Linked DNA regions of Homo sapiens: region 1 is linked to region 2. The links come from fine-mapping of genetic effects on plasma protein levels. A gene starts in region 2. The other region holds a variant in brackets. All regions are shown on one strand. Distances are between the middles of the regions. Region 1 overlaps SMAD3-DT (SMAD3 divergent transcript). Region 2 holds the start of SMAD3 (SMAD family member 3).

What was found. PIP is the posterior inclusion probability: the model's chance that the variant is causal. Protein levels are from antibody-based Olink assays in UK Biobank. Linkage for the fine-mapping came from a reference panel and not from the study's own genotypes, which makes the PIPs less certain.
Region 1: its variant is fine-mapped to the plasma level of the SMAD3 protein (UK Biobank, PIP above 0.99).

What each region holds. Positions count from the first base shown.
Region 1 is chr15:67,035,361-67,043,360 of GRCh38, reverse strand. All of the region lies in intron 2 of SMAD3-DT (SMAD3 divergent transcript), which reads left to right. Among named protein-coding and RNA genes, the nearest start is that of SMAD3-DT, 25 kb to the left of the region's middle. The variant G/A (reference allele first, on the strand shown) is at 3,985.
Region 2 is chr15:67,056,021-67,065,929 of GRCh38, reverse strand. It overlaps SMAD3 (SMAD family member 3), which reads right to left and starts at 328. Exons shown (of 9, transcript NM_005902.4): 1 at 1-328. SMAD3-DT (SMAD3 divergent transcript) reads left to right here and starts at 1,748. Exons shown (of 6, transcript NR_135686.1): 1 at 1,748-2,814; 2 at 6,718-6,790. RefSeq lists a silencer at 62-551, enhancers at 1,310-2,080, 3,238-3,382 and a cis regulatory region at 3,304-3,317.

The DNA.
Region 1 (8,000 bases), 22 kb after region 2:
GCATGGTGGTATGCACCTGTAGTCCCAGCTACTTGAGAGGCTGAAGTGGGAGGATCACTTGAGCCTGGGAGATAGAGGCTGCAATGAGCTGAGGTCACACCACTGCACTCCAGCCTGAGTGACAGAGCGAGACCCTGACTTAAAGGAAAAAGAGAGAGAGAGAGAGAGAGAGAGACAAGGGCTGGGGCCAGCCTGCCTGAATTCTAACACTCATGAGCTGTATTCCCATAGTAGAGTTTTTCAACTCTCTGAACCTCAGCTTCCTTATCTGTAAGGAAGGATAATAATAACTCCTTCTCGATCACACTGTGAAGATAGCATGTGATCGTGCACGGCAGGAAGCATTTGATTCAGACCTTGACATACTGTGATTATTACTTGTGGTTACTGTTGTCATAACCTAGTGAGGGGATGGGACAGAGCCTATGGTTATCCCACATTGATACATGATTAAGACTCTGAAGTTCAAAGGTTAGTTGATATTCGAAGTCACACATTATCACTGAGATGGTTCTAATAACCCATGGCCTGGCTCTCTGCAGGGGGCCAGCTCCCTCAAGGGGTCCCTGCCAACTTCTAGAGGTCTCCCATGGGTTTCTGAGCATTTGCCAGCACACTCTCCCCTCATAGCAGGCAAAGCGGGAGGCACTGAGCTGCGTGCAAAGATGAGGAAGGATGTGTAGGTGGCTGGTGCTGCAGGCTACCCGAGAACACTGGTTCTATGTACTTTGTACTCTGGGGAGCAGTTTGCAGTGGTGGGAAGAGGTGGCTGCTTGGAATAGACAAAAAGTACAGAAGCCTCTGTAGGCAAAAAGCTCTCCCCCACATGGTCTTCCATTCCTCTGTTCCAAACCATATAAGACTTTCTCTGCCCTCAGAATAAAATCCTTAACATAGTTTCATGTCATGTTGAATTTTTTCCTAGCTCCTTCCCAGTTTGATCCCTTGAAGCATGACATTGAGCTTCTCTATCCTTCTTCCCCCATCAACCCCTACACACACACACACACACACACACACACACACACACGCACACACAAGCACTCATACCTTCACACATTCACACTGCAAGCTCAGTTCTCCCCAGGCTAGGTTGAGGACCCCCCTCCCCCTCCTCAGGTAGAAATCAGCCACATCTGGCCATCTGGACAATTGCCGGCCTGGACTCGAAGAGCAAGAGCAAATCTGCAAGCCAGCAGAGGAACCCAGCTCATTCTGAGTAAAAATAACCTGTCAAATCAATTACAGCGGCAGAACCAATTAGGGTGACCGCAGGGGAATAAATATGCAGTGTTTAACTTAATCATCTTTCTGTTCGAACAGCACTCCGGCAGGGCTGCATGACTAAGGCAAATGACTATTACATAACTGGTATTTTTATTCCTTGCCCCTTCTCTTTAGAAAGAGAAGCCAGTAAATTTCATTTTCCTTTAAAGTGGAAAAAAAGACAAAGGAAAAGAAAGAAGATTGTTTCTGAACTTGCACAAATGATCAAAAAAAAAAAAAAAAAGGACAGCCTGGGGCCCTCTGTTAGCAACAAATTAATGTAGAACTACTCACTAGCTATGTGACCTTAGGTGAGTCATTTTCTTCTGTGATTCCGCATCTATGAAGGGAGGCACTTAGAGCTGATGATCCCCAAGAGCCATTCTTGCAAATCCTGACTTTCTATTACCTAGGACAACTTTGACTCTGAAATTCTTTATGGCCATGGTGGGATCTTACTTACCTTTGAGTTACCCCATTGCTCCTTGTACAGTGTCTGTATACTCAGGTGCTCAATAAATACTTGCCAAACTGTTCTTTATTTCAACATTTCCTGTCTCTAGGATACTTGCTAGGGACTGGGAGATAGGCACCCAAGTAGTATAAAGAAGTTGTCTCCCATTTGAGGGAGGCCAGGCATGCCTCTGAGAAATGACAGAGTCTAGTGTGCATAGGCTGGATGCGTGCTGGAGGCAATAGATACTCAGAGAAGAAGGATCTTTCTTTCTTCCCTTCTTTCCTTCTTCCCTTCTTTCCCTTCCTTCTCTACCTTCCCTTCCCTTTTCCTTCCTTCTCTACCTTCCCTTCCCTTTTCCTTCCTTCTCTACCTTCCCTTCCCTTTTCCTTCCTTCTCTACCTTCCCTTCCCTTTTCCTTCCTTCTCTACCTTCCCTTCCCTTTTCCTTCCTTCCTTCTCTACCTTCTCTCCCCTTTTCCTTCCTTCCTTCCTTCTCCCTTTTTCTTTCTTTCTTTCTTTCTTTTTGTTTTGTTTTTGTTTTTTTCTGAGACAGGATCTCTCTCTGTTGCCCATGCTGGAGTGCAGTGGCATGATCTTGGCTTACCGCAGCCGTGGTCTCAAGTGATCCTCTCTGTTCAGCCTTCTGAGTAGCTGGGACTACTGGTTGGAATTAAAGATAGTCAGATGTTGAGCATAAACGCTTTCTTAATTGGTGGCTGCTTTTAGGCAGATTTTTAAATTTTTTGTAGAGACATGGGGGTCTCACTATGTTGCCCAGGCTGGTTTTGAACTCCTGGACTCAAGTGATCCTCCCATCTCAGCCTCCCAAAATGCTGGGATTACAGGAGTGAGCCGCTGTGCTTGGCCAAGAGGGATATTTCTAACCCGAGAACGGTCATGAAGCACTTCCTGGAGAAGGTGAAATAGCACTGGTCCTTGAAAGACATTTAGAATTCTGACCAGTCAATAAGATGAAAGATACTGTAGGGGTATCTGTAGGAATGGCCTACGTAGAAGTGAGGAGAGAGAAAACCTAACAGTGGTGGGTGGTTTGTGTTGGGAAGCAAAAAACGAAAAAAAAAAAAAAAAGAAAAGATATCTTGGAATCAGACTGAGAAATGCTTTGGAAGCCAGGCTGGGGAGGGTGGGGCATATCCTGGAAGCAATGGGAAAGGAAGGTGGGATGGAGTCTCTATAGTTTCATCATCTTCTCTGGCCAGTGGGTAAATTCACCATTCTAAATAGTTAGAGATGAACTTTATTTCTGTTCTGTTCTCCCTGGGAACAGCCTAGAGGTCTAGAACCATGGGGAAGGAAGTAGGGGACTGTCATTGATTGCACAGAATACAGTTCTTTTGCCCTGCCTATCATACCAAAGCCCTAGGTTTGCTTACTTTGCCCAAGTGCAAATTCACAGCTTTTCAGGGCTGTAAAGGTCAATTATTAGAGCGGATGCTGTCGGTGCCCTGACCCATCTCCTCAGCACTCACCTCCACACTGAATTCAGGTCGCTCACATCTAATACCCATGAGCACTGTGGCCAGCGTGGGGCAAAGCCCAAAGTGCCCAAGAATTGATATCCCTGGCGAACAGCCCTCTATGAATGAGGGACGAGCATTTGGTGGATAAATCCCCAGTTTCCTTACCCCTTGGGCAGATGAACTCTGAGGTGTGTTTTCCAACTCTGTCTCCCAGAGTGTTTCCAACACCAGTTGCCTGTGGTGACAACCTGCTCAGCAGCATGCCTCACACTGGCTTCCTTCCGTTCTCTGTCTCACTTCCACACCCTTCACCTGAGTTTCTAGGGATCACCTTCTAAATGACCTATTACTCACACTTGAATCCTTGACTCAAGCTTCTGGGGAAACTGAAACCAAAATAATTCATAAATGTCCCTCATTATATGGCTGGGGAAACTGAGGCCCAGAGAGGAGAAGATGATTTGCTTAAGGTCACCAAACAGCTGGCTTAGGCGAGAGCCTGGGCCTCCAGGCCCCCAGCCCAGGGCCCTCCCGCTAGACCAGACAAGTCTTAGATTAGTGCTCCCTCCCCTCTGCTCCCCCGCTGAGGCGCCACAAAGTCACAAGTCAGCAGCAGAAACTATTCTTCCTCCACTCCTATTTGAGCAGAAAGCAAGGGGCCTCAGCAAGGGGGAAGGGGCGAGGCCTGAGGCTCCCAGATGTGGCCCTCATTCTCCTGGAAAGTGGGCTTTTGTCTCTGCGGTAACCAGGGCAGCCGCCCCATTTATCTGGTTTTAGCAAA[G/A]CAGCCGCATCCTTTGGTTTCAACTGCTGGGGTTGAAATGGTATGTTTGCAAAATGGAGTTATTAGCCCTTAAAAAGGAGGAGGAGGGTTTTTTTCTCAGGAAAAGGAAGATGAAGCTTGGGGTCTTTCCATATCAATGTCGAAGAAGTGCAATATACACAGAAATGACTTTAGGGGACCAGAGAAATCCTAAGTAAAGATGGAAACCAGCAAGTGGAGTTTAGATAGATAGAGTGATATCCTTTTTAAAGCAAGCAAATACATCTTATAACAAGGTAGCTGTTTGCTGTCAGTGAAAGGAATCCAAGGGGAATATTGCTGAGAAACAAAGGCATTTTCTGTCTCTTTAAATAACTCAAGGCAGCCTGACATCTTAGTTAACAGAGGAAACAAAGATGTTGTATGCTCAGGGAAAGGAAACTATTTTTCTCTTGAAAAGAAAGCAGATGTTATCATCTAGCTCTAGAAAAGTTTGAGGTACCCAAGCACAAAGTGACACTTTGCCAGGTTTAATAAACATTGCTTTGATGTGCCAACAACCCCTAACTAAACTGGTCACTTAAATGAACTAACCTTTAGGCTACTAATGGATTATTATCATAGTTCACCTCTCTGTGTATGAAGTTCCCTTGAGCAAATCCCTAGACTGAAGATCCCTTGAGCAAATCATTCTATCCTTGCCTTGCCATGAAGTATTTGTGAAGGGCTAATTGCAAATTCATTTGTTCCGTCATTCAGAAGTTCGGTATTTTTACTGTGTGGTTGGACAAATACAATACATGCAGATAATGGACTAAATTGGTCACACTTGTAATTGTGTAAGGTCAAAAACAGGACCCAGAGCATCCATGCTGAAGGCAGGGCAGGGAAGCAAAGCTGAAAAAAGCTTGGGAAGTCAGGCTGGGGAGGGTGGGGCATATCCTGGAAGCAATGGGAGAGGAAGGTCAGAAAGTCTGTAGTCTATCCTGGGGAAGGAAAGGGAAGATTTCATTGAGATTATCTTTTTTCTCTGGCCCTCACATTTTTTGGGAAGAATCCGAATGAATAGGTAAGAAAGACTTAGTAGCTTGGCTGGGGCAGATGGCATATGATGTAGAATTGTTAGATTAAGTTGGAAAGATAATGTGAGTTTCAGTTTGGAGGACTTGAGATGCATGCAAAGAAGCCTAGGCTTTATCCTAAAGGTAGCAGGGAGCCATTGGATGTTCAGGATCATATTGGGGGAGGAAAATTGAGCTCAAGATGGTTGCCTACTTACCCTCAAAGGGCAGTCTTTAGCATCCCTGATATGATATTGATATGATGAATCACTTATGAAGTCCATTCACCCAACTGGCTAATTTTCTGTCTTTGGGGTTGGGGGAGGAAGAAAGGAGGTAAGTTATTGGATTTCAAAGTACAAAGTGGAAGAGGAATTTCTCAATTGGATCAATCAGTAGGGACACACTCTCCCTGCTGGGAGCCAAGAGCCAGCTGTTGCCCAGGTCAGGTGCAAACTATGGAATTATAGCAGCACCCATTTGAGCAGCTGGTTAGAATGCTTCTGGGTTTTCCCTTAGACACTTAACCTTTTTATAGCTCAGCCACAAAACTTTTGCTTCAGGCCAGACCTCAGCCTGTTACTTGCTTAATTAATTGTTTTTCTTTCCAGCATCCCTCCAAAATCTATCAGAGAATAATACTTCAGCTAGGTCTCTTGCATTTCTGCAAGAGGTCTCTTCATTTCTGAATTATTTGGGTTTTTCCCCTTCCACTCCTCTGAGACCAGACTTTGGAAATGTATGTTTCAATCAATACTCTATTAAGCAGAAAGCTCAGGGAGGAGAGGATGCAAGGTAATAACATTTTCTGTCTAATGGAGGATTCTTTTAATAAAACTCAATTTGTTTCAGTCCTCTTTGTAGCTGCTGGTTATTAAAAAAATGCCCGAGTCCACTTTTTCTGCCCTCTGGTTGTGATTAAGTGAATCCTTGCTGAAGAGGGTTCTTGTAGGCCACAGAGGAGCGGTGTGGTCATCAATAACCACAGGCCAGGGTTGGAAAATAGGATGGAAAAGGAGAAGGGTAGGGGTTAGCCACCACTGACTGTGTGGCTGCAGGGCACCATGGGAACCCCGGCTGGCTGCCACCACACCCTTCACTCACCCTTCACCAGCCCCCTCCCCTCACCTAACCCAGAACAGGAAGGCAGGGCCAAAGTCAAGACACAATCTTTTTTCTTCCCTAATCTTCACCCAACTTTCATGAAGAAAAGGCAGACATTGGGGAAAATGCTGTTAAGGGGACTTGTTTTTTGTTTTGTTTTGTTTTGTTTTTGAGACAGTGTCTTGCTCTGTTGCCCAGGCTGGAGTGCTATGGCGTGATCTTAGCTCATTGCAACCTCAACCTCCTGGGCTCAAGCGATCCTCCCACCTCAGCCCTGCCAAGTAGCTGGGACCACAGGCATGCACCACCATGCCCAGCTTAAATTTGTTTATTTTTCTTTTAGAGATGGGGGCTTCCTATGTTGCCCAGACTGCTCTTGACTCCTAGGCTCAAGTGATCCTCCCGACTCGGTCTCTCCAAGTGTTGGGATTACAGACATGAGCCACCATGCCCAGTCGAGGGGATTTTTTTTTTTTTTTTTGAAATAGTCTTGCTCTGTTGCCCAGGCTGGAATGTAGTGGCACAGTCTCGGCTCACTGCAACCTCCACCTCCCAGGTTCAAGCACTTCTCCTGCCTCAGCCACCTGAGTAGCTGGGATTACAGGCGCGCCCGGCTAATTTTTATATTTTTAGTAGAGACAAGGTTTCACCATATTGGCCAGGCTGGTCTCGAATTCCTGGCCTCAAGCAATCCACTTGTCTTGGCCTCCCAAAGTGCTGGGATTACAGGCATGAGCCACTGCGCCCAGCCTAAGCAACTTCCCAGGGAAATCCCGGGAGTCTGGACGTCCTGGGTGAGTGCATTAGCAAGAACATCGGCCTGTCAGCCAAGAGAGTTCATTTCTTGTCCTGACTCTGCCATGCATTACCTGTGTGGCCTTGGACAAGTAGCCTCTCCTCTCTGGGCCACATTAATGTGTCTATAAAGGGAGGGGGCTGGGCTGGGGTCTGCAAGTTCCCTTCCATGGAGCTGTAAAATTGGGATAATAACAACGCCTTCTCTGCTCACCTCAAAGAGGTGTGGGAAGATAAAAATTAAAAATGATTGGAAATACTTGGTAAGTTGTAAAGCCCTATGTAATCGGGAAGAGTAAGTCTCTATGGGAGGCTTCCTTCAGCAGTCAGGAACTTCTTAATGCAAACCAGGTGTTGGTGCAATCAGACTTGAGGTCTCCCAGCCTGGGGAGACTGTGGCTGGGGGAGGGCGAGGAGAAGGGAAGTGAGGTGGGCAGCCTGGCTTCCCAGAGTCTCCCTTCATACATGGCTCCTCATTCTTCCTTGGTGCCCGTACACAGCAGGATGACACCCCCACCCACACCCCTACTCGCTGCCCAGGGTGACACCTCCACTCCCACCCTGTGCCCAGGATGAAACCCCCACTCCAAGCCCAGGATGACACCTCCACCCCATCCCATGCCCAAGATGGCACCCCCACCCCCACCCTGTGCCCAGGATAACAGCCCCACCCCCACCCCGTGGCCAGGATGACACCTCCACCCCATTCGGTGCCCAGGATGACAGCCCCACCCCCACCCCATGCCCAGGATGACACCCCACCACCACCCTGTGCCCAGGATGATACCCCTCACCACCTCACACCCAGGAGGACACCCCACCCCCACCCCGTGCCATGATGACACCCCCATCCCCACCCCATGCCCATGATGACACTCACCCCCACCCCATGCCCAGGATGACACCCCCACCCACACCCCATGCCTAGGATGACACCCCACCACAATCCGGTGCTTGGGATGATACCCCTCCCCACCCCACACCCAGGAGGACACCCCACCCCCACCCCATGCCCAGGATGACACCCCCACCCACACCCCATGCCTAGGATGACAGCCCCAACCCTGTGCCCTGCTC
Region 2 (9,909 bases):
AGCGGCCGGGCGGGCGGACGGCAGCAGTGCAGGGTCGGGAAGGCCCCGAACGCGGGGCGGAGGCGGCGGCCGCGAGACTCCAAGTGGCAGCAGAAGTTTGGGTTTCCGCACGGGGTAGCTGTTTGGGTGCCGCCTCCGGGAAGGAAAGTCCAACCCCCGGCCAAACTTCGCTCGCCTCGCTAGCTTTGATGCGCAGATCCCTCCGCCTCTGCGGCCTCACCGCCCCGCCACCCTCCTCCTCCCGGCTCGCCGCTCGCTCGCTCGCTGGCTGGGCCGGCCCGGGGCGTGCGCCGCGCTCCCGCTCCCGCCCGCTCCCAGTCTGTGTTTCATGCAAATCCGCGTGCAGCCTCCTTTCCAAGTGCTGTCACCGCCCCCTCGCCGCCGGGGCTCCCCGCCTCCTCCCCCGCGCCCCGCCACCTCCTCCCGCGGGCGCCCTGCCCGCCCCCTGCTCCGGGGAGGGCGCCCGGCCGGCCACCACCCCGCGCCCAGCACGCCCACGTGGGCGACCCGGGCGGCGGCAGTCCTGGCTGGAGCGCGCGGGACCCTGCGCGGCCCCGACCTGAAGTCGGGCGGGCGCGGGGAGGAAGTCCTGGGAAACACGGCGAGAGGGGCCTCGGGCGGGAGGGCTGAGCGCGGCCCGTGGCGTCCGCTCTCGGAGTCCACACTCGGGCGGCTCGGTTGGAGTTGCGGGCCGGAGAGGGTTGGACTCGCAGCAAGTAAGCGTCGTCCGGACGCGAGTGCACCCTGGAGAGGACCCGAGCCCGAGAGGGGGCGCGCGGAAGGCCCGGGCCCAGGAAGTTGGGGCCCGCACTTGGCCTCGCGCTTGCTGATCCCCGTCAAGGCCCTTGGCCGGCGCCGGCGCCCCTGGGCTGTTTTTATTCTCTAGTCGGTGAGATCACACCGGCCGAGAGCCTCGGGAACGTGTGCGGAGGAGGAGGGGGTGAGAAGTGGGTCCTCAGAAGTGGAGAGCTGGGGACACCAGTGACAACCTGGACAATGGCTGGAGCCAGGGGTCTCTTGAGCCTTGTGAACCGAGTGCCCGGCAGAAAATGAGCCTCAAGGACATCTGTTGAGTTCTTGAAGGAATGAATGGAGGGGCTTTCGAATTTATCTTTGAAAGAAATTTACATAACAGGGTGTTTGTTGCTGGATCTCCTGATAGAGAAGGATCGGAAATTTGATAATTGCCAATAAATGGAAGAGAGTTTTGTTTCCAAAGCAATGAACTCACAAAAAAGTGGGGCAAGACAGGAGTTTTCGGAGAGTTTGTGTATTCAAAAAAAGCAAAACAACAACAAACCAATTGGCACATTGGGGAGCTCCGCGGCTTTTCTCCCCACCAAAAGAATTCAGGGGCGTCTGCCCGCAGGGCCCTCGGCGGTTTTCAGGAGCTACTCCAGGCCCCTCGGCCTTTCTCTTGCTGCCTCCCGCAGCCGACTAGCCGGTGTCTAAGCCCTTTGTTTGTTTTTAACAGCAGGAATCTCCCACCCCCACCCCTGCTTTGTTAAAAAAAAAAAGTTATCTGGAACCCTCAAGTGGGTGGGGAGTTACAAAGCCCTGTGAGGTGTGGCGGAATCCACAGTCAGCCCAGAAGCGGCAGGGGCCCTTGCCTTGCTCCGGAGAACCGCCTCCCACAAGCCAATCCGCAGCTGCTGCTGCAGAAGTGCGCTGTGCTCCTCACCCTCCTCTCTTCCTAAATACCCGCCTGAAAAGGAGAATACGTGAAAGCCAACTGAGGCTTGACAACCTGGCTTCCGTTCCTTGCTGGTCCTCCTGTTAACGCGCTGCCGCTGTGGTCTTAGGTTTCACTCTCCTCTTCCCGTCCGTCAAGAGAGACAAGGATGACACAATCCACATTTATTGATTGCTTTCTTCATTCCGGGTAGTCCGCCTGCTGCCCTTTGATTCAGTCTTAACAGTGGTTGGTGAGGTAGATGTTCCTGTGCCTCACGTTTACGGAGGCACAGAGAGATTACATTACTTACTCAGGGTTCCAAGTGGCAGAGCTGGAATTTGAACCCAATACTTTGTTGAAGCCTCAGTCTCCGATCTTGAGACTGCACCCAGCTGCCTGGGTCACGGAAGGCAAAGATGACATCATTGATCGAGCTCTTTGCAAAACAGTTCTCTACACGGGCACACTGTTGTAACACTGCAAGGATTATTTGCTCACCTGTAAAATGGGGCTAGAGGTAGCTTCCCTCGCGATCTCCTAGGGTGGCTGTGGGAAGCTCATGTGAAAAGGTTTGCATTGCTAATGCCATGAAAAGTGGTGGAGGGAGGTCAAATAAGTTTAACACACATTGACGGAGCAGCTCTGAGTTGCAGCCCTCCTATTCAGTTCCTGAACTTCCAAAATAAAAGACTAAGGTTTTCAAGGCGTTCACAGCCTAGAGAAGCATCAAAGGGTGGGGATGAGGATGATGTGACTGAGTGGGCAAAGATGGGCAGGGGCCTTGCAGTCATCATCGTCCAGTAAAGTGTTAATCTTAACCTGAACAAGTCCAACCATTGAGAGGTAGCCAAAGAAAGTAAGAGGGGCTCAGGATCCATCAGTGACTGGCCTGGCTTCCAATCCCGGCTCTTTCTCTTCTTCCCCTTGGGCAGCGTCCGTTCTCTCCGCTGTAAGAATGGAGCAAGCGGTTCTCACTGTGCAGAGTGGTGGATCCAGAAAGAGCATTGTAACTGTCCTCCTGTAGTTCAAGTCCTTTATGTTACAGAGAGAGCAATGTCTGCTGAAGGAGAGTGATTTGCACTGTAGAGGAAGAGCGTCAGAGAGATTTGAGGATTACATGTAGTAGAAGGACCTGACAGGTACTTCACCCTGTAAAATCATGGTATGGGAAGGGGCCCTCATTCAGCCCTCTCATTTTCCTGAGGGGAGGAAATAACTAGGCAGCCAGCTAGTTAGTGTGGCAGAACCATGCTTCCCTGCTGGCATCCGTGTGACAAGAACAGCTGTGCATGCAGAAAAATAGTGCTGGACCCACCTACAAGTCTAATAAGTGCCATTTCTGGGCTAGTTCTTTCTCCTCAGGCCTGTTTCTCCAAGAGAAGTCCCTCCACTGGGGGACTAAGTCCAGTTTCAGAAAGCTCTGAGGAGGGCTGAGGAACTGATTCTTCCAGTGCTGAGAAGACCCTGCATGTTCTCTTGATCTTGACTTTGGGCAGTGAATGGGTGGGCTGCTCTGGATGGGTACAACTCTGTTCTGGCACCTGGTCTTTTGGGGCCCAGCCATACCTGCTTTTGCAGAGGTTGTCCTTGGGAGGGAAACATTAGCCCAGTTAATTTTTCACCATGGTAAGTGCAAAGTTCAGGAGAGGTGGGATGGAAGTGGAGACAGCAACTGTTTCCCTGGGAATAGTCCATCCTATGAACAGTTCACCTCGTGAATAGACACATCAGAGGGTTTTCGTGTATTTGGAGTGGCTCCCAGGTAGGCCAGCCACTCCAAATACACGAAAGAAACAAACACCTGACTTCAATTCTGATTATTTTCCCATTAGCTTAAGGGTATTTAATCAACAAGTAGTGAATCTAGAAAAAGCATTAAAATCATCTTCATCTTACACAGACAGAAAGTGATGTCTGTAAGGGAAGGTGATTTGCACTGTGAAGATAAGTAGCCAAATCAGGACTAGAACTTTTATCAGAGTGCCCTCACCTAAGAGAGAGCCTCTGTCTACAGTCAGATCTCTACCTATAGCTCTTTGTAACACCTTACACGTGTGAGCTCTTCTGTGGCACCAGAATGACCTGGGTTAAACTTCTACCTCTTCCACTTCCGGCTGTGTGACTCTGGGCACGTTCCTTAACTCTGTGTGTGTCAGTTTTCTCATCCATAAAATGTGATAATTACAACACCTTCTTAGGATTGCTGTATGGAATCAGATTAAATCATATAGAAAGCTTGGTACAAGCACATAGTAGGTTCTCAATATACATGGATGTGATTCATGCATACTATAAAGTGCTATGCAAAAGTGAGAAGCAATGAATTCCATGTACATAAAACAAATGTATAGATTTTAAACACAGTTCCAACAGAAAATAGTAAGACACAGAGGGAAAGGAATAGCATAATGCTACTATGTAAAACAAATTACATATACACAAAATAATTATATACATTTTGAAAGAAGTTATACAAATAAAAAGATATACATTGAACCACTTCACATCCATTAGGATGGCTATTATCTTTTTTTCTTTGTTTTTGAGATGGAGTTTCGCTCTTGTTGCCCAGGCTGGAGTGCAATGGTGCCATCTTGGCTCACTGCAACCTCCGCCTCCCGGGTTCAAGCAATTCTCCTGCCTCAACCGCCTGAGTAGCTGAGATTACAGGCATGTGCCACCCACGCCTGGCTAATTTTGTATTTTTAGTAGAGACGGGATTTATCCATGTTGGTCAGGCTGGTCTCAAACTCCTGATCTCAGCTGATTCCTCCCACCTTGGCATCCCAAAGTGCTGGGATTACAGGCGTGAGCCACCGCGCCTGGCCAGCTATTCGCTTTTAAAAAACAGAAAATAACATGTTGGAAAGGATGTGAAGAAATTAGAATCCTTGCACATTGCTGGTGAAGATGTGAAGTAGTGCTGCCTCTGAGGAAAATGCTGTGGTGTATGTATGGCAGTTCCTCAAAAAACTGAGCAGAATTACCATATGATCCGGTCATTCTGTTTCTGGGGATATACCCAAAAGAATTGAAAGCAGGGACTACGAGTATTTCCACACCCATGTCCGTAGCAGCCTTATTCACAACAGTCAAAAGGTAGAAGTAACTCAAGTGTCCATCAATGGATGGGTGGAAAAACAAGATGTATTGTAGTCACACAATGGAATTTTTAAATTTTATTTATTTATTTATTTAGAGACAGAGTTTCGCTCTTATTGCCCTGGCTGGAGTGCAGTGGCGCGATCTTGGCTCACTGCAACCTCCACCTCCCAGGTTCAAGTGATTCTCCTGCCTCATCCTCCCTCGTAGCTGGGATTACAGGTATGTGCCACCACACCCAGCTAATTTTGTATTTTTAGTAGAGATGGGGTTTCACCATGTTGGCCAGGGTGGTCTTGAACTCCTGACCTCAGGTGATCTGCCCGCCTCGGCCTCCCAAAGTGCTGGGATTACAGGCATGAGCCGCTGTTCCTGGCCCATACAATGGAATATTATTTAGCTTTAAAAGGAAGGAAATGCTGACACATGATACATTGTGGATGAACCTTGAGAATATTATGCTAAGTGAAATAAACCAGCCACAGAGGAACAAAAATTGTGTGATTCCACTTACAGAAGTACCTAGCATAGTTAAATTCTTAGAGACAGGAAGGAGATAGTGGTTGCCAAGGGCCAAAGGGAGAGGGAATGGAGAATTATTGTTTACTGGATATGGAGTTTCAGGTGAAGAAGATGAAAAAACTCTGGAGATGGATGGTGGAGTTGGTTGTACAACAATGTGAATGCAGTCAGTGCCATGGAACTGTACACTTAAAATGGTTAAAATAGTCAATTTTGTTATGTACATTTTACCATAATAAAAGAGTAGGAATAGGCCAGGTGCGGTAGCTCATGCCTGTAATCCTAGCACTTTGGGAGGCCAAGGCGGGTAGATCACCTGAGGTCAGAAGTTCGAAACCATCCTGGCCAACATGGTGAAACCTTGTCTCTACTAAAAATACAAAAATTAGCCAGGCACGATGGCAGGAGCCTGTAATACCAGCTACTTGGGAGTCTGAGGCAGGAGGGTCACTTGAACCCAGGAGGCAGAGGTTGCAGTGAGCAGAGATCACGCCGCTGCACTCCAACCTGGTGACAGAGCGAGACTCCATCTCTAAATAAATAAATAAAGTGGGAATAAAATGGTAAATATTGAACAGAGTAGAATAGATGTTTGAGTGTGGGTGTATGGGAGAATAGAGGATAAGGCTAAAGAGGGAAAATAAATAAGTGCATTCAGGTGTGTATGACTGATGTGTGTAACTGAGGAGTGTGGCTAACTTTACCCTACTGCTCTAACGTAGTGTTCAACATACATTAGTCAATAGACCAATTGCTCTCTAGTTTGTTCGAAAGATAGAACCTTTGGCTTCCAGCACTGTTCAGTTCGGTGGTCATGATATCTTACATGTGGAGAACTTAGTCAAAATTATTAAAAATTCCTGTCTCACAGCAACCCCTAAAACATGCAGGCTTAGGCGTTGCCCTATCTGACAGCTTAGGGAACAGAGGGCAGGAGATTAACACCATTTGTGGGGCTGCCCTATGCCAGGACTGGGCTTGGGACTTCAAGGATGTGGTCATGTTTAAAGTTCTCAGTGTCTACAAGATGATTGTTGCATTGCTGCTTTATGGAGGAGGGACCAGAGAGGCAGGCAGTTCAGCTGTTGTTGGCCCAAGCTTGACTGGCCGTGGAATACCAGCCCCTTACTGCTAGCCCAGCGTGGGTCCCTATGTCCCCAAAGCCCACAGCAGAATTTCTGGCGTGGATTACAGAGTGTCCTTGGGAGAATGACTATGACAGAAGGAGCTGGATACAGGTACTGTCCAAGGAAAGTATTGAGAGAGAGCAGGTCTGACTCAGAAAGATTTGGGGCAGGGGGTTGGACTTGGGGCTGTGTGCAGACCGAGGCATGGGGCCAAGGCTGAGCTGGGAGCATGGGACAGGGCTGTGGGCGGGCACTTGGAGCCCAGGGCAGGGTTCACAGAGCTATTTTCAGTTCTCTTGCAGGATCTCCTTCCCAGCCTTCAGAAATTGCCGGTCTGGGAGTTGGGGGCAAGGAGAAGATCCTGGTAAGTGTGAGGTTGTGTGTGTATGAGTTTATTTTTTACCATTTATGTGTGTCCTGGTGTGTTGCACTCTCTATGCATACAGGGGTGTTGTGGAGATTCACATGTGTGTGCATGTAAGATGTCTCTGCCTGTGCCTCTGAGGTCTTGTTCACATCTCATTCTTTCAAAGTCCAGCCCCAGTTATTTAAGTGAAACGGGTACATGTTGTGTGAGTTTCCTCTCTGAATTCATATGTTTTTGTCCTTGCGTACATCTTGTATGTACGTATATATGTTTATAGAGGTCACTGTGTTTTCCGTTTCCTATTTTCCAAGATAATAAAGTCACAAATCAGTCTTGGCTCAGGCCCATGGTCTATGGTTCTGTTAGCAATGTGGACATAAAAAAGAGTAGTTGGAAAATTGTTGGTCCATTATAGTAGCATTTACTTTTAAAAATACCTGCATATGAACAGCCACCAGAGAGGATGCATTGAAATGAAAATAGAGTTCTACAAATGCAGTGAGAGTGTATGACCTTAAATTATTTTTATTTTTTTACATTAAAAATAATAGAGGCATGTTATTTTTACATTAAAAACAACAGAGGTATAGAGGTCCGGCACAGTGGCTTACTCCTGTAATTCCAGCACTTTGGGAGGCCAAGGCAGGTGGATCACCTGATGTCAGGAGTTTGAGACCAGCCTGACCAACATGGTGAAACCCCTGCCTCTACTAAAAATACAAAATTAGCCGGGCGTGGTGGTGCATGTCTGTAATACCAGCTACTCAGGAGGCTGAGGCAGGAGAATTGCTTGAACCCGGGAGGCAGAGGTTTCAGTAAGCTGAGATAGCACCACTGTACTCCAGCCTGGGCAACAAGAACGAAACTCCATCTCAAAAAATTAAATAAATAAAATCAACAGAGGCATATACCCAAAGGAACTAAAAGCAGGGGCTTAAACAGATATTTGTATGCCCCTGTTCATAGCAGCATTATTCATAGTAGCCACAAGGCGGGAGCAACCCAAGCATCTGTCAACAGATGGAGAAGCAAAATATGATATAGACATACAATAGAGGATTGTTCAGCCTTCAAAAGGGTTGAAATTCTTTTTTTTTTTTTTGTGACGGAGTCTTGCTGTGTCGCCCAGGCTGGAGTGCAGTGGCGCAATCTCGGCTCACTGCAAGCGCCGCCTCCCGGGTTCACGCCATTCTCCTGCCTCAGCCCACGGAGTAGCTGGGACTACAGGCACCCGCCACTGCGCCCGGCTAATTTTTTATATTTTTAGTAGAGACGGGGTTTCACCGTGGTCTCGATCTCCTGACCTCGTGATCCACCCGCCTCGGCCTCCCAAAATGCTGGGATTACAGGCGTGAGCCACCGCGCCCAGCAAAAGGGTTGAAATTCTTACACATACTACAGTGTGAATGAACTTTGAGACCATGTTAAGTGAAATAAATCAGTCACAAAAGAGCAAATGTTCTATGAATCCACTTATATGAGATATGTAGAGTAGTCAAATACAGGCTAGGCGTGCTGGCTCATGCCTATAATCCCTTTGGATTATAGCACTTTGGGAGGCCAAGGCGGGAGGATCACCTGAGGTTGGGAGTTTGAGATCAACCTGGCCAACATGGAGAAACCCCGTCTCTATTAACAATACAAAAATTAGCCGGGTGTAGTAGTGCATGCCTGTAATCCCAGCTACTACTCGGAAGGATAGCTTGAACCCTGGAGGTGGAGGCTGCAGTGAGTGGAGATCACACCACTGCACTCCAGCCTGGGAGACAGAGCGAGACTCCATCTCAAAATAAATGAATAAATAAACAAATTCATAGAGACAAAAAGTAGAATGGTGGTTTCCAGAGGGTTGGGTAAGAGGCGATGAGAGTTAGTATTTAATGCGTACAGAACTTCTGCAAGACGAAAAGAGTTCCAGAGGTGGATGGTGTGATGAGAGCAGAACAAGGATGAATATACATAATGTCACTGTACTGTATACTTCATAATGGTTAACATGGTAAATTTTATTATGTATATTGGGCCACACTTTAAAAAAAATAAATTTTAAAAGGAAATAGGGTATACTGTATAAAAGTTATAACTCAGTGAAAAAACAGATTTTAAAAAGAGAAGGAGGTCAGGCACGATGGCTCACACCTGTAATCCCAGCACTTTGGGAGGCTGAGGCAGGCAGATCACAAAGTCAGGAGATCGAGACCACCCTGGCCAACATGGTGAAACCCTGTCTCTACTAAAAATACAAAAATTTGCTGGGTGTGGTGGTGGGTGCCTGTAGTCCCAGCTACTTGGGAGGCTGAGGCAGGAGAATCCCTTGAACCCGGGAGGCAGAGGTTGCATTGAGATGAGATCACACCACTGCACTCCAGCCTGGTGACAGAGCAAGACTTCATCTGAAAAAAAAAAAAAAAGAGAGAGAAGAAAAAAATGTGTAGGGCAAAAGCAGTGTCAGGTGTCTCCAGTGTGTGAAACATGGGTTGTAGAGTGGCACAGAAGGAGACAATGGTGATTTGCACTTTCGGGTCAGGCGTGAACGTGTTACTGGCCTTCAGAGAGGGCCTGTTAGTGCTTCAGTGTAGTCAGGCCCTGGGTGTGTGACAGGAGAAAGAGTGGAATCCTGACCTCGTAAAATAACATCGCATCTGGAATAGTCTGCACCTTACTTACAGCCCAGCATCTGCAGCCCATGAGAACTTCCTGCCACTGATTGACATGGTTGAAGTGCATGGTATGTAAATTATATCTCACTAATGACATTTTAAAAAATAATGAAGGTTAGCACCTATTGAAGTCTTACAAGTGCTAGGCCCTATTTTCAACACTTCTATGGATTAGATTCACTTGTTTGGTTTTCACGACTGCTTGTGGTTCTTGTTATTATCATGCCCTTTTCAGAAGAGGGCACTGAGCATGGTAAGGTCAGACCAGGGAGTGGCTGTGCCCAGTCAATCCAGGCAGCCTGCTACACCTAAGTCCTTGCTCTTAACCACAATGAAGACAAAAAACAGCCACTAACTAGAAATAATCATATTGCACTCACCTGCATTTTCTTTTAACATATTGTGAATATCTTTCTATGTCAATACATACGTATTTCCTACATTGTTTTGAAAGTC